Linked DNA regions of Homo sapiens. The protein of the gene in region 2 interacts with the protein of the main gene of each other region in a pairwise test. Each region holds a gene or a part of one and is shown on either strand. Other genes may lie near its edges.

Region 1 (3,315 bases), on a different chromosome or scaffold from region 2:
CCTGGCCAACATGGTGAAATTCCGTCTCTACTAAAAATGCAAAAAATTAGCTGGGCCTGGTGGCGCATGCCTGTAATCTCAGCTACTTGGGAGGCTGAGGCAGGAGAATTGCTTGAACTAGGGAGACAGAGGTTGCAGCGAGCCCAGATCATGCCATTGCACTCCAGCCTGGGCAACAAGAGCAAAACTCTGTCTGAAATAAACAAATAAATAACGTATTCCTTTTTTGTTATCTTGTCATCTAATCTTATTCACCTATTTTAACAATCATAAATGGAATCAATTTGCCAATTGATGCAGTCTGTTAGAAATTGTAAAAACTTTTGTGTTTTTTAGTCCTCTTGTATTTATTGCTTAAACTGTTTTAAAGTTCCTCTGTAGTAACCGTAAATGTTTCTAGAGTTTTACTTTAGTTACTATTTACTTTTATTTATTTATTTACTTTTTAGAGACAGGGTTTCACTGTCACCCAGGCTAGAATGCAGTGGCTCAATCACAGCTCACTGTAACCTCAAAACTCCTGGGCTCAAGGAATCCTCCTACCTCAGCCTCCCAAGTAGCACGCACGCATTAATTTTTATTTTTTTATTTTTTTTTTTTTGTAGAGGCAGGCTCTCCCTATGTTACCCAGGCTCATCTCAAACTCTTGGCCTCAAGGGATCCTCCCACCTGGGCCTCTAAAGGTGCTGGGGTTACAAGTGTTAGCCATCACAACTGCCCCTGATTTTTTTTTTTTTTTTAGACGGAGTCTCACTCTGTTACCCAGGCTGGAGTGTGGTGGCATAATCTCAGCTCACTGCAACCTTTGCCTTCTGTGTTCAAGTGATTCTCTTGTCTCGGCCTCCTCAGTAGCTGGGACTACAGGTGTGCGCCACCATGCCTGGCTAATTTTTTTATTTTTAGTAGAGACAGGGTTTTGCCATGTTGGCCAGGCTGGTCTCGAACTCTTGATCTCAAGGGATCTCCATATATGGAGTCTTGCTCTGTTGCCCAGGCTGGAGTGCAGTGGCGCTATCTTGGCTCACTGCCACTGCAACCTCCACTTCCTAGGTTCAAGTGATTCTCTTGTCTCAGCCTCCGGAGTAGCTGGGATTACAGGTGCGCACCACCATGCCTGGCTAATTTTTGTAGTTTTAGTAGAGACAGGGTTTCATCATGTTGGCCAGGCTGGTCTCAAACTCTTGACCTGCAGTGATCTGCCTGCCTAGGCCTCCCAAAGTACTGGGATTACAGGCATGAGCTACTGCACCTGGCTGATTTACTTTTAAGCTTCTGTTTACTTCTTTGTTCTTTCTGCTTTTTGTTTTTTGAGATAGGGTCTTACTCTGTCAGCCAGGCTGGAGTGCAGTGGCAGAATCTTGGCTTACTGCTCCTCCACCCCCTGGGCTCCGGTGATCCTACCTCAGCCTCCTGAGTAGCTGGAACTACAGGCACATGCCACCATGCCTGGCTAATTTTGTTTATTTTTTGTAGAGATAAGCTCTCATTATATTAACGAGGCTGGTCTTGGACTCCCGGTCTCAAGTGATCCTCCTGCCTCGGCCTCCCAAATTTCTGGGATTACAGGCATAAGCCACTGTGCCCGGCCTCTTTAAATTTTTTTAAAGTAATTTTTATGTTTTATTATTTGCAGTTCATAATTGTATTACTTTATAATTTGTTTTTACCTATTTTATTTTTATTTATTTATGTATTTATTTTGAGATGGAGTCTTGCTCTGTTGCCCAGGCTAGAGTGCAGTGGCGGTATCTTGGCTCACTGCCACTGCAACCTCCACCTCCTGGGTTCAAACGATTCTCCTGTCTTCAAATGATTCTCCTGTCTCAGCCTCCTGAGTAGCTGGATTACAGGTGCGCACCACCACGCCTGGCTAATTTTTGTATTTCTAGTAGAGACGGGGTTTCAACATGTTGGTCAGGCTGGTCTCGAACTCCTGACCTCAGGTGATCTGCCCGCCTAGGCCTCCCAAAGTACTGGGATTAAAGGCATGAGTCACCGCGCCCAGCCTGTTTCTACCTATTTTAAAATATCAGCAAGAAGGATGAGCACTGCAAACCAGCTCTTAAGGGCAGAACTCTGAAAGACAACTGAGCTGCTGCTACAGTGAGCCTTCATGCCCTTCACAGGAGCTCCTCCAAAGTGTCTAGCCCAAACTGCCCTAGTACAACAGTCAGTGGATTAAAGTTACAGACAACCACCACCCTGTAACCGCTGGCACAGCTGACCTCACTTCTAAATCACCCAGCTATTTGTGCAAGCAACACGGTTCAAGCTCAGGGCTAGGGGCTCGCCCTGTGTGGTGGCGGGAGGGTCAGCAACTGTCACATCTCAAGAGGTGGCAGGAAGTCTATGTAGATTCTCTTTCACAGGCAAATTTCAATGAATCACCAGGTTGTCTTGAATTCCCGATGAAGACTCCTTATAAAGGATGTCTGTAACTAAACTTCTGGAATCTGCCTCACACCAGGCTCAGATGCCTTTTGTCCAGGTCTGGTTTCCTGAGCATCTGTTCCTTGTTTTGAGAGCTGAGGAGGAGCTGGCTAGAATGAGGAGCATCCCCATCTCAAGGTTTCAAGGTGGAGGGTCGAGCCCTGGTTCCGTCTCTGACCCTCAGCTCCCCGTGTGGTCAGAAGGCAAGTGCTTTCTACTCGCCAGGGCCCGTGCAGCAGACTGGGGCTGGTGGCAGGCACCTGCAGACACAGGCATGGTGGCAGGAGAGACACCCCAGGCCTTCAGAAGAGGGTCTGAGGGGAGCCCACGGAGATGCAGCAGATGCAGGAAGCAGTCACTCCAAGAGAAAAAGAGAGGTGAGCTCAAAATACCAAATGCCACTGTAGGCCTGAAACCAAACTGGCTAGGACCAAGCTCCTCTGCTCTTGAGGGTCAGACTTCTGCACTACACTGCCCCCATTTTCCTTGCCCCATCATCCTCTTGTTTAGTGCCTTAACAGTTATCAGAGTTAAAGCTTTTGGAATTTTTCAAGGGATTTTGTTCTCAAGGGGCAGTCGGGGGAATTAGGTGATGAGTTCCTTCCTTTACCATCTGCAAAGGGTCAGAAGGGAAGAATCCTCACTGTCCTCACCACTGGTATCTGTACTGTGCCTACCAGTCAGTCAGTTCCTGGGGGCAGCACGTGTGTCTTTCCACCTGGGCACTCCCAGCATCCTGCACACGTGCATCACAGACAGTCCATGTTGTGGAAGGGATCAGTGGTGCAGGAGCACACACGAAAGAGCTAAGCTAATGACAAACATCAGAGGAGGCTGCACGGAGGTGGTGGCATTGAAGCAGGGCCTGAAAAATGAGCAGAGTTT
Region 2 (3,500 bases):
ATTAAAGGGCTAAAACTTTCAGCCCCACCCACCAAGAAAGTAAGGGTAGGGAGGTGGAGATAGAGCTCTATGCAAATTCTTCAACAATAAAATTAAGAAAACTCAAAATGAAAAGCACATCTGAGTGTTAGGAGGGTTGTGCGCTGAGGAAACCTGGATGGAACCTTTGAGCCCAACTTCCATCCCCCACATACCCATACCTTGTGCCCTAATAATTATCTTCCAAGCATTTGTCTGTTTCTGAGTTGTATCCTTTATAATAAACAGGTAAACATAAGTGTTTCCTTGAGTTCTAGGTGCCATTCTAGCAATTATTGAACCTGAGGAGGAGGTCAGGGGAACCCCCAACTTAGAGCTGGTCAGTCAGAAGTACAGATGGCCTAGAACTTGTGACCAGTATCTGAAGTAGGGGCAGTCTTGCAGGACTGAGTCTGCTAACTTGTGAGATCAGACACTAACTGTAGGTAGGTAGTATCAGAAATGAAGCTGAATCTTGGACACAGAGCTGGTATTGGACAATTGGCTGGTGTCAGAAAAAACAGTCCAGATTATGCCAGCTAAAGGAAGAAATAATAAATACACACACCAGACTATGCTTCTAATAATCTTTCCAAAAGACTAGTTTAAGTTTTATTAACAGGAAGCAGAATTCACCTATAAACACTGGGTACAAGAGGGCTGATACTGCCAGTCAAGGAGACAGAGAGCCAGGGAATACCTGGAAATAGATTTCTCTTTGGAGGACTTCAATCAAGGAGAAACCTAACAGAGCAACAGGATGACCAAGTGCTTACCACAAAGTGTTTACTTCGTAAAATTACATAACCAACTAAATGCATTCAGTTCTCACTTACTGAGCACTTTTTATATATGCCAGAGACTGTGTTACATATGTATTGAGAATAAGGCAACAAGAAAGACATCCTCAGAACTCAATCTAGTAGGAAAGACAGACAAGAAAATAAATGTCTATACAGATGCTAAGTACTTCAGTAAAGAATATTCACAGGATATTATGGTAATATAACCCAAGTGGAATGGCTACTTTCAGAAGAAGAGATAACACTTAATGAGTCTGGAGCATAAATACTTTGGCAAGGAAACGTGAAGAAGGTTAGGAGGGGGACTGAATACTAGGCACAATGAACACCATATACAAAAAGCACAAAAATAAATGTATTAATGCATTCTTGAAACCACAAAAACTTCAGTATGACTAACTACAGTAGCAGATAGCAGTGCTCACCAAACATTTCATTTTGCAGCCTTATTATTTCTTTTGCACTTGGACAGGCCTATGTGAAATGCCAAAGGACTACAAGAAATGATATATGCCACTTCTGGCCAAAGTATAGCAGGTTCAACTTAAAACCCTGTAGCTGTCTCTTCTGCCGTGTTCCAAATGGTAGAGCTATAATACAGCAGAATGAAAAATGACTTTCATTAGCTTGAGTCTCTGAGGGACTATATGGATGGGCACCTTACAAACCGGTAAAAAGCGTAGCATGCAGAAAAATGCAGCAAGAAATGAAGCTTTGTTGTAATAAGCCACTGAGTTTGGCTATCTATTATCAAAAGAAAATGGATAACAGCACTTTGGCAGATCACAAATTCAGGAGATCTAGACCATCCTGGCTAATATGGTGAAACCCAGTCTCTACTAAAAATACAAAAAAATTAGCCGGGCGTAGTGGCACACTCCTATAATCCCAGCTACTCGGGAGGCTGAGGCAGAAGAATCGCTTGAACCCAGGAGGCAGAGGTTGCGGTGAGCCTAGATCGCGCCACTGCACTCCAGCCTGGGCGACAGAGCAAGACTCTGTCTCAAAAAATATATATATATATATTCCACAGAACCTCAATATATAAATCTAATACAGGCCAGGCACAGTGGCTCTCATCTGTAACCCAGCATTTTGGGACACCAGCAGGACACCGTAAGCCAGGAGTTTGAGGCTGCAGTGAGCTATGGATGGCATCACTGCACTCTAGCCTCCGTGACTGAGCAAGATCCTGCCTCTCTTAAAAAAACAAACAAACAAACAAACAAAAACTAATATAAGAAAAACAAAAGCAGTTTTAGGCGAGGCTGGCTTCCCAGACCCCCTTCCATGTGTTCAGGACAGTTACAAAATAACTAATGCAGTCTGATCCCTTCCTTTTACAAATGAAAAAATTATTATTCAGGGACGCTGGCTTACGATTAATAACCAGCTAATCTTACTCATACTAAATTATGTGGTAGTCAGATCAGGTATACACAAACTACATCTCTTTCATCATTAAAAAGAAAGGCGCCAACTGATATGTAAGAATATCCATATCCCCAACTACTTCCTTAATATCTACAATTATAGGAATGTATGTTTTTTTTTTTTAATTTTTGTTGTTAAAGTGACATAATGTTTTATTTTCTCATTTTATCTGAAACTACCCAGGAAGGGAAAGGAGTATTTTTTCCCATCCCTACTGGAATGACTAAAGACACTTACCTAAACCAAAAGGGTTGCTAGTAGCAGAACCAGATGTAGAGTTACTATTAGGAGTTGATGATGTAGTAACATTGCTTCCAGCTGTATTTGTTTGCTGAGCTGAATGATCCTGAGGCCTAGGGAAAATAATTAATCACAGAGTAAGCAGTAGAGCTGATTATTTTTAAAAGAACCACCAAAGGCCAGGCACAGTGGCTCACGCCTGTAATCCCAGCACTTTGGGAGGCCGAAGCTGGCTGATCACGAGGTCAAGAGATAGAGAACATCCTGGCTAACACAGTGAAACCCCATCTCTACTAAACATACAAAAAATTAGCCGGGCGTGATGGCGAGTGCCTATAGTCCCAGCTACTTGGGAGGCTGAGGCAGGAGAATGGCGTGAACCCAGGAGGCGGAGCTTGCAGTGAGCGAGATCGCGCCACTGCACTCCGTCCAGCCTGGGCAACAGAGCGAGACTCCGTCTCAAAAAAAAAAAAAAAAAAAAAAGAACCACTGAAATCCTGACATCTAGAAATAAAGGGTAAACTCTCAGACCAAATCAAATTATCATTTAGTAAAAAGCCTGAGAAAACTAAGCATTAGGAACAAAAAATACAAAATAAAATAAAACCCTACAAAATACAAAATATGCTGCAATTGCCCCTCCTCTTTGAGTATAATGTACACAAATATTTCATTAGTTTCAATCATATTGCTTATGTAAGAGATGGAGGTAGGTTATCTCATAAGAGGGAAGCCAATGACCAGTTACACCCACAAAGCTTGACTATATAAAAAACTTTTTTATCTTGGCCAGGTGCGGTGGCTCACGCCTGTAATCCCAGCACTTTGCGAGGCCGAGGCAGGCGATCAACTGAGGTCAGGAGTTCAAGACCAGTCTGGCCAACATGGTAAAACCCTATCTCTACTAAAATACAAAAATTAGCCGGGCATGGTGGCACATGCCTGTAATCACAGGTACTCAGGAGGCTGAGGCAGGAAGACTACTTGAACCCAGGAGGCGGAGGT
Region 3 (3,500 bases), on a different chromosome or scaffold from region 2:
CATTAAAACCCTTAACTGATTTAAGATATATTTAAGGGAAATAGGAGTTTGAATGACTAATAGTTACCTTATCATGAAGTAGGCTTATTATTTTGCTATCTGAGTCTGCAGCGTCTTCAGTTCAGTCTCTTCGCGCATAAGCACGCTGAGTATGATTTATTATAGAAATGTTATCATGTGAGCTAAACAAAATAGTCATTTTCACAAAAACTCTCCTAAATTAAAAATTTAACAGAGCTTCCATTACGGGAAGAGGTGAAGTCCCTGCCCACTCTTGTTTTAGGAGTCCCTTACCCAGCCCCCACAAGACTCTTCTCCCTTTCTGGCTACTACTTCTACACTTCCTTATTGGCTCATTCTTTGTCTTCTCAGGTGGGTGAACAAGTAACTCCTTTGCAATACAGCTGCTGCCTTTCTTTTTCCTCAAGTTTTGGTGTCACCGCCACCTTTTCAGCTGTCCCTCACTCAAACCTTTATTTCAAAATTCAATACTACTATTAGGGAAACTGAACTAGTTTGCAAAAGAAAAGAGAACTCCTGTTATCGTTCATAAGGAAAAAGCAGCGCACAGATATCTAGGGTATTGCTATGTAAAGATGATTGCTGTTTAAAAATCCTGAGCAACTGTCAGGCACCAGGAGACTCGGGACCTCAGATTAATGGAAGCTCTGTGTGACAGGCCTAAAAAAACCAATCATATTCTTCATATGAAATTTTTATTGTGAATATTTTCACAATATAATAAAATTAAAGTTTTGAAGGTACTTTTCACATAAACATCTTCTTCAAAAATGATGAATCAAAATCATGCTTATTTTATAACCCAATAAACCTTTTAAATTTCAAGTTTTGTACTTACCTTGACAACGTCTTATATTCATACAAATCTTTCTACCAGACACTTTATAAGTATTTTAAAGTACCTATTCACTACAAAGTGTTAATTACCTCTTTGCTTCTGCTCCGGCTCCTGTGTTTTCTTCCTTCATTATCTGTGAATACACAAAAAAAATAATCACCATAAACAAAGTTGGAGAAACATTTCATCTTAAAAAACTCTTAATGCTGGAGAAAAATGACTCCCATTAGTCTTCTTCCAATGACTAATTTTTTCATGGCACGGGTGGGATTATTCTACATTAATACAACACACATGTGAAACAAATCAAGCAATCTGAGCAAACCAGGACATAAAGCAGCCTAGATACATCTTTTAAACGGTCATAGACTTTCAGTATTTTACATATATTCTGACCAGCCCATCTAGTTTCCTAGTCTACAGCAAATTCATAAGGGGGTTTAATAGAGAGAGGTAAGCCATTAAGAAAAATAAAAACTAAAGAAAATAAACAGGTTGAATTATATTTGATATGTTCCAACATGGTGAAACCCAGTCTCTACTAAAAATACAAAAATAAGCTAGGCGTGGTGGCGCACGCCTATAATCCCAGCTACTCAGGAGGCTGAGGCAGAAGAACTGCCTGAACCCAGCAGATGGAGGTTGCATTGGGCTGAGAGTGTGTCAATTTTTGTATTTTTGGTCCTGGCTCAGGTGATCTGCCTGCCTTGGCCTCCCAAAGTGCTGGCATTACAGGCTTGAGCCACCATGCCCAGCCAACAAACTAAATGTATGTGTCTTCTTATACAACAGGTCTACATATCTTATACAAATGCTGAGAGTTGTAACCACCTTTAAGAATTCATACCTGACTTTCGTTTTCTTTCTCTTGACCTTGATCGTGATCTTGAATAATGATGTTTTGAAGCTCTAGGAGAAACAGATACTTCTGACTGCTCTTTTTTCTTATCTCTATCTGGTGATGTCTTTTCTGGGGCTAGTCCATCTCGCTCTGTATCACTAGCCTAAAAGTTTAAAAACAAATGATTAAAGTTCTTAATTACATTTTAAATGTTTTCAATTTCTTAAAAGAGGGACAAAGGGAGGGAAGATAGCCCCCCACAATCAATAAATCAGAATGCCTGCTTTCCAAGTAACTAAATGTGCTTTGTACACTAATAAGGCTGAATGGCTTGAAATGACGAACCTGATACTAAAGCAAGACCTACATATTTAGACTGATGTATCTTTAATTTTCTAACGATGATTTGTATAACTTTTAAAACATGGGGTGGGGTGGGGGAGGAATAAGGGCTCCAAGTAGTTCTAATAAGCATTCAAGCAGAGAAAATAGTCCTTTTTAGATGTGTGAATGCATTTAGCTGACTTTACCAATACTTTTAAATTAGCATACATGTCAAACATCAAAAATGAGTTGTTAAAGCTTAAAGATACTCAAGACGATAAAATCTTAAAACAATGCCCTAAGAATATTATAAAATAATAAACAGAAAATTAACTTACCTAAGTGAGAACCTCATCTTAATGTCATTAACCCTCTTTAATGAAAACAGCCCCTTGGCACAGTGCTGCTGCAAAATATGGTCTGCCTCTCCTCACATGTGCTCTGGGCTATGAAAACATTAAGTTGTTTCTGCTTTAAAGCATTTTATAAGTAATTATTACAATATAAATTTTACAAGTTTCAACTAATGCAGAAGGTAGACAATGCTCGGCTATCTGACCAGAGAAGATAACATGAAAATAAAATAATTGATACACCTGGGGAATTGATTACTTAGGAAGGGTTGGCAAGCTATGGTCCTCATTCTGTTTCTGTATGGCCTTGAGCTAGGAATGGTTTTTTACGTTTTTTAAAACTATTTTAGGCATATTTAATAAATAACTTCAGTAAATAGCACTGTAAAGACTGAACTGTTAAAACTAAAGGCACTTAAAACGCCAGTGTTGTGGCTCATGCCTGTAATCCTAGCACTTTGGGAGGTTGAGGCAGGCGGATAACCTGAGGTCAGGAGTTTGAGACCAGCCTAGCCAACATGGTAAAACCCTGCTTCTACTAAAAACACAAAAATTAGCCAAGAGTGGTGGGGCGTGCCTGTAATCCCAGCAACTCAGGAGGTTGAGACAGGAGAATGGCTTGAACCCATGAGGCAGACGTTGAAGTGAGCTAAGATTGCGCCACTGCCCCTCCAGCCTGGGAAAGAATGTGACAGAGACTGCACATGGCCCACAAAGCCAAAAATATTTACCGTCTGGCCCTTTACAGAAACAGTTTATGGACTTTTCACGTATAACATCAAACGGAATCTGGATTGAATAAATAGGGAATCGATAGTCTTCAGCAGGAGGAATCACATTAGAGAACTTCCTCCTTTAGGAAAGTTAGTCCAGAAAATGAATACCAAATATCAAGTACAATAAATGGGGGTATTGTATTTTAACAAATTTTAAACAAGTATCAAGTACAATAAATGGGTGTATTGTACTTTAATAAATGAAGTTGTGAGAGGTCGAGTTACTTCAACAAGTATTTACTAAGGGTCAAAAATGTGCCAAAACCAATGCTAGACTTAGGGAATAAAATGATAAATTAAAAACAGAAAGGTTTTGCAGTTCAATTATGAGATGAAAGACATAAATT
Region 4 (2,508 bases), on a different chromosome or scaffold from region 2:
GCAGTTTCTGCTGGCTGCAGGGAGCCGGGAGGTCACCCCGGGGGCTCAGCCCGCCCCGCCGCCCTCCCCAGAGCCCCGGTGCCTCACCTCACCAGCGTGGCCTCCCCCGAGTACTTGAGGTCTTCCAGCTCCCGCTGCAGTTGTTGCTTCTCCTGCTTCAGCCTCACCAACGTCTGCTCGTTCTCGCTCTTGAGCGTCTCCAACTGCGCGAAGGTGTCGCCCTGGGCCAGGAACCGCCGCACCAACGACTGCGGGCCACCCAGCCCCAGTCAGAGCCAGGGCCTAGGGAGCGTAGGGGCGCTCCACCTCCTCTCCCCCACCCTGCGAACCCTCGCACGCAGGACAGGTGGCCTGAGCTGGCGCCTTTTGCACAGCAATGTATGGGGACACTGTGGGTTGGACGCAGGGTTGCTTCAAGGGTGAGCAGCCCTGGATATATCATTTTTGCGGGGCCCTTTCTGGCCTATATAAGGAATTTGAGTCAGCCCAAACTCGGGGGCAACTGGAGAGGCGAGCATAGCTTCTTTCCAAAATCAAAGTGCCATCAATTTCTGGCCGTGAATCTCGCCCGATTCCGCAGGAAATACCGCCCGTCTTCGGAGCCATCCGCTCACAAGGCCCACATCTGGAAAGGGGCTGCGCCTCAGTGCCCCAGATGACCCCATAGGTGTACTCCTATAGGTGGGAGTCCCGGAAGTCATCAGGGGTCGGCCCCATCGGAGGAGCAGCAGGTTGGCGGACACCCAGAGGGGAGAAACAGGGTTGGGGTCCAGTGTTCACCGGCGGGAACCAGGACCCAAGGGGGACACAGCGGTCTTAGAATAATGCAAGGAAGACTTTACAGTGAGGGACCCGGCGCAGGGACCCCACTTGCCAGGATCTGAGGATGGTACTGGGCGGTCCACTGGGTCCCAGACCATGTTACAGACACTGGAGACAGAACAAGAGACGAAACTCCCAGTTCTCCTAGAGCTGGCATGGCAAAGGAGTTAGCATGGTGCAAGAGAGAACGGAAGGCGAGTGTAGAAATGACGGCGAGTGTAGACAGCTCCTAGGGGTTTTGCTGCGAAGGGCAGCAGAAAAACTGAACGGTAGCTGGAGGGGGAAGGGATGTTTTTCAAGAAAGGAGCAGGTTTGTGAGCTGAATAACCGACCTGGCAGAGAGGGGAGACAGGGTGTGTCGGTTTCACCGGCTTAGGCACCCCTGGGGCCCGTCTGGGGTGGGGGGGGGGCGCGGCGGAGAGGGCTGCGGGCAGAACTCACGTGCGTCTCGTCAGTGCCAGTGGCGTCCTTGACCTTGCCAAAGATCACCTCCATCTGGTACATGCTCCAGCGCTGCCGCAGCTCCTCCTCCTTGGCATGCAGGCTGTCCTGGATGGTGTCGTCGGACTGTAGCAGCAGGTGCTCGCGGTGGGTCTGCTCGTGGGTTGAGGTCAGAGCCAGGGTCAGCTGGTGGACAGCGCTTGGGAAGGAGGCCGGGGAGGGGGATCCAGATAGGGGCCCGCGAGGAACAGGGCTCAAACTGGAGGGAAGGGAGAGGGCAAAAGCTTGGGGCCAGATAAAGGCACCCGGGCAGGTGTCAAGAAAGTGGGACAAGGTCGGGCGCGGGGGCGGTGGCTGTGGCTCACGCCTTTAATTCCAGTACTTTAGGAGGCTGAGGCGGGAGGATTGTTTGAGCCCAGGGGTTCGGGACCAGCTTGGACAACACGGCGAGACCCCGTCTCTACAAAAAACACCAAAATTAGCAGGGCGTGGTGGGGCGCCTGAAGTCCCAGCTACTTGGGAGGCTGAGGTGAGAGGATCACTTGAGCCCAGGAGGTCGAGACTGCAGTGAGCTATAATTAGTCTGAGCGACAGAGACCGTGTCTCAAAAAAAAATCCATATATATATGTATATATGTATATATATGTATATATGTATATATGTGTATATATACCTATGTGTATATATGTATATATGTGTATATATACCTATGTGTATAAATATATATGTGTATATATACCTATGTGTATATATGTATATATGTGTATATATACCTATGTGTATATATGTATATATGTGTATATATACCTATGTGTATATATGTATATATGTGTATATATACCTATGTGTATATATGTATATATGTGTATATATACCTATGTGTATATATGTATATATGTGTATATATACCTATGTGTATATATGTATATATGTGTATATATACCTATGTGTATATATGTATATATGTGTATATATACCTATGTGTATATATGTATATATGTGTATATATACCTATGTGTATATATGTATATATGTGTATATGTACCTATGTGTATATATGTATATATGTGTATATGTACATATGTGTATATATGTATATATGTGTATATGTACATATGTGTATATGTATATATGTGTATATATACATATGTGCATATATACATATGTGTATATATGTGTATATGTGTATATATGTATATGTGTATATGTACATATGTGTATATATGTATATATGTGTATATGTA

What was found. Proteins that work in one complex are often made in the same cells at the same time.
Region 1: the proteins of UBQLN1 (region 2) and RABL2B interact in binary tests that used the Homo sapiens proteins (3 or more experiments, as listed by UniProt).
Region 3: the proteins of UBQLN1 (region 2) and RSRC2 interact in binary tests that used the Homo sapiens proteins (3 or more experiments, as listed by UniProt).
Region 4: the proteins of UBQLN1 (region 2) and ODAD3 interact in binary tests that used the Homo sapiens proteins (3 or more experiments, as listed by UniProt).

What each region holds. Positions count from the first base shown.
Region 1 is NC_000022.11:50,770,322-50,773,636, forward strand, and holds part of RABL2B (rab-like protein 2B), read right to left. Parts: intron 1-3,315. UniProt on the Homo sapiens protein: Small GTPase required for ciliation. Activated in a guanine nucleotide exchange factor (GEF)-independent manner via its intrinsic GDP for GTP nucleotide exchange ability.
Region 2 is NC_000009.12:83,680,459-83,683,958, forward strand, and holds part of UBQLN1 (ubiquilin-1), read right to left. Parts: intron 2,609-3,500; coding exon 2,493-2,608; intron 1-2,492. UniProt on the Homo sapiens protein: Plays an important role in the regulation of different protein degradation mechanisms and pathways including ubiquitin-proteasome system (UPS), autophagy and endoplasmic reticulum-associated protein degradation (ERAD) pathway.
Region 3 is NC_000012.12:122,520,437-122,523,936, forward strand, and holds part of RSRC2 (arginine/serine-rich coiled-coil protein 2), read right to left. Parts: intron 1,864-3,500; coding exon 1,707-1,863; intron 997-1,706; exon of another isoform or gene 993-996; coding exon 949-992; intron 146-948; exon of another isoform or gene 76-145; coding exon of another isoform or gene 68-75; intron 1-67.
Region 4 is NC_000019.10:11,422,614-11,425,121, forward strand, and holds part of ODAD3 (outer dynein arm-docking complex subunit 3), read right to left. Parts: intron 1,417-2,508; coding exon 1,264-1,416; intron 249-1,263; coding exon 88-248; intron 15-87; coding exon 1-14. UniProt on the Homo sapiens protein: Component of the outer dynein arm-docking complex (ODA-DC) that mediates outer dynein arms (ODA) binding onto the doublet microtubule. Involved in mediating assembly of both ODAs and their axonemal docking complex onto ciliary microtubules.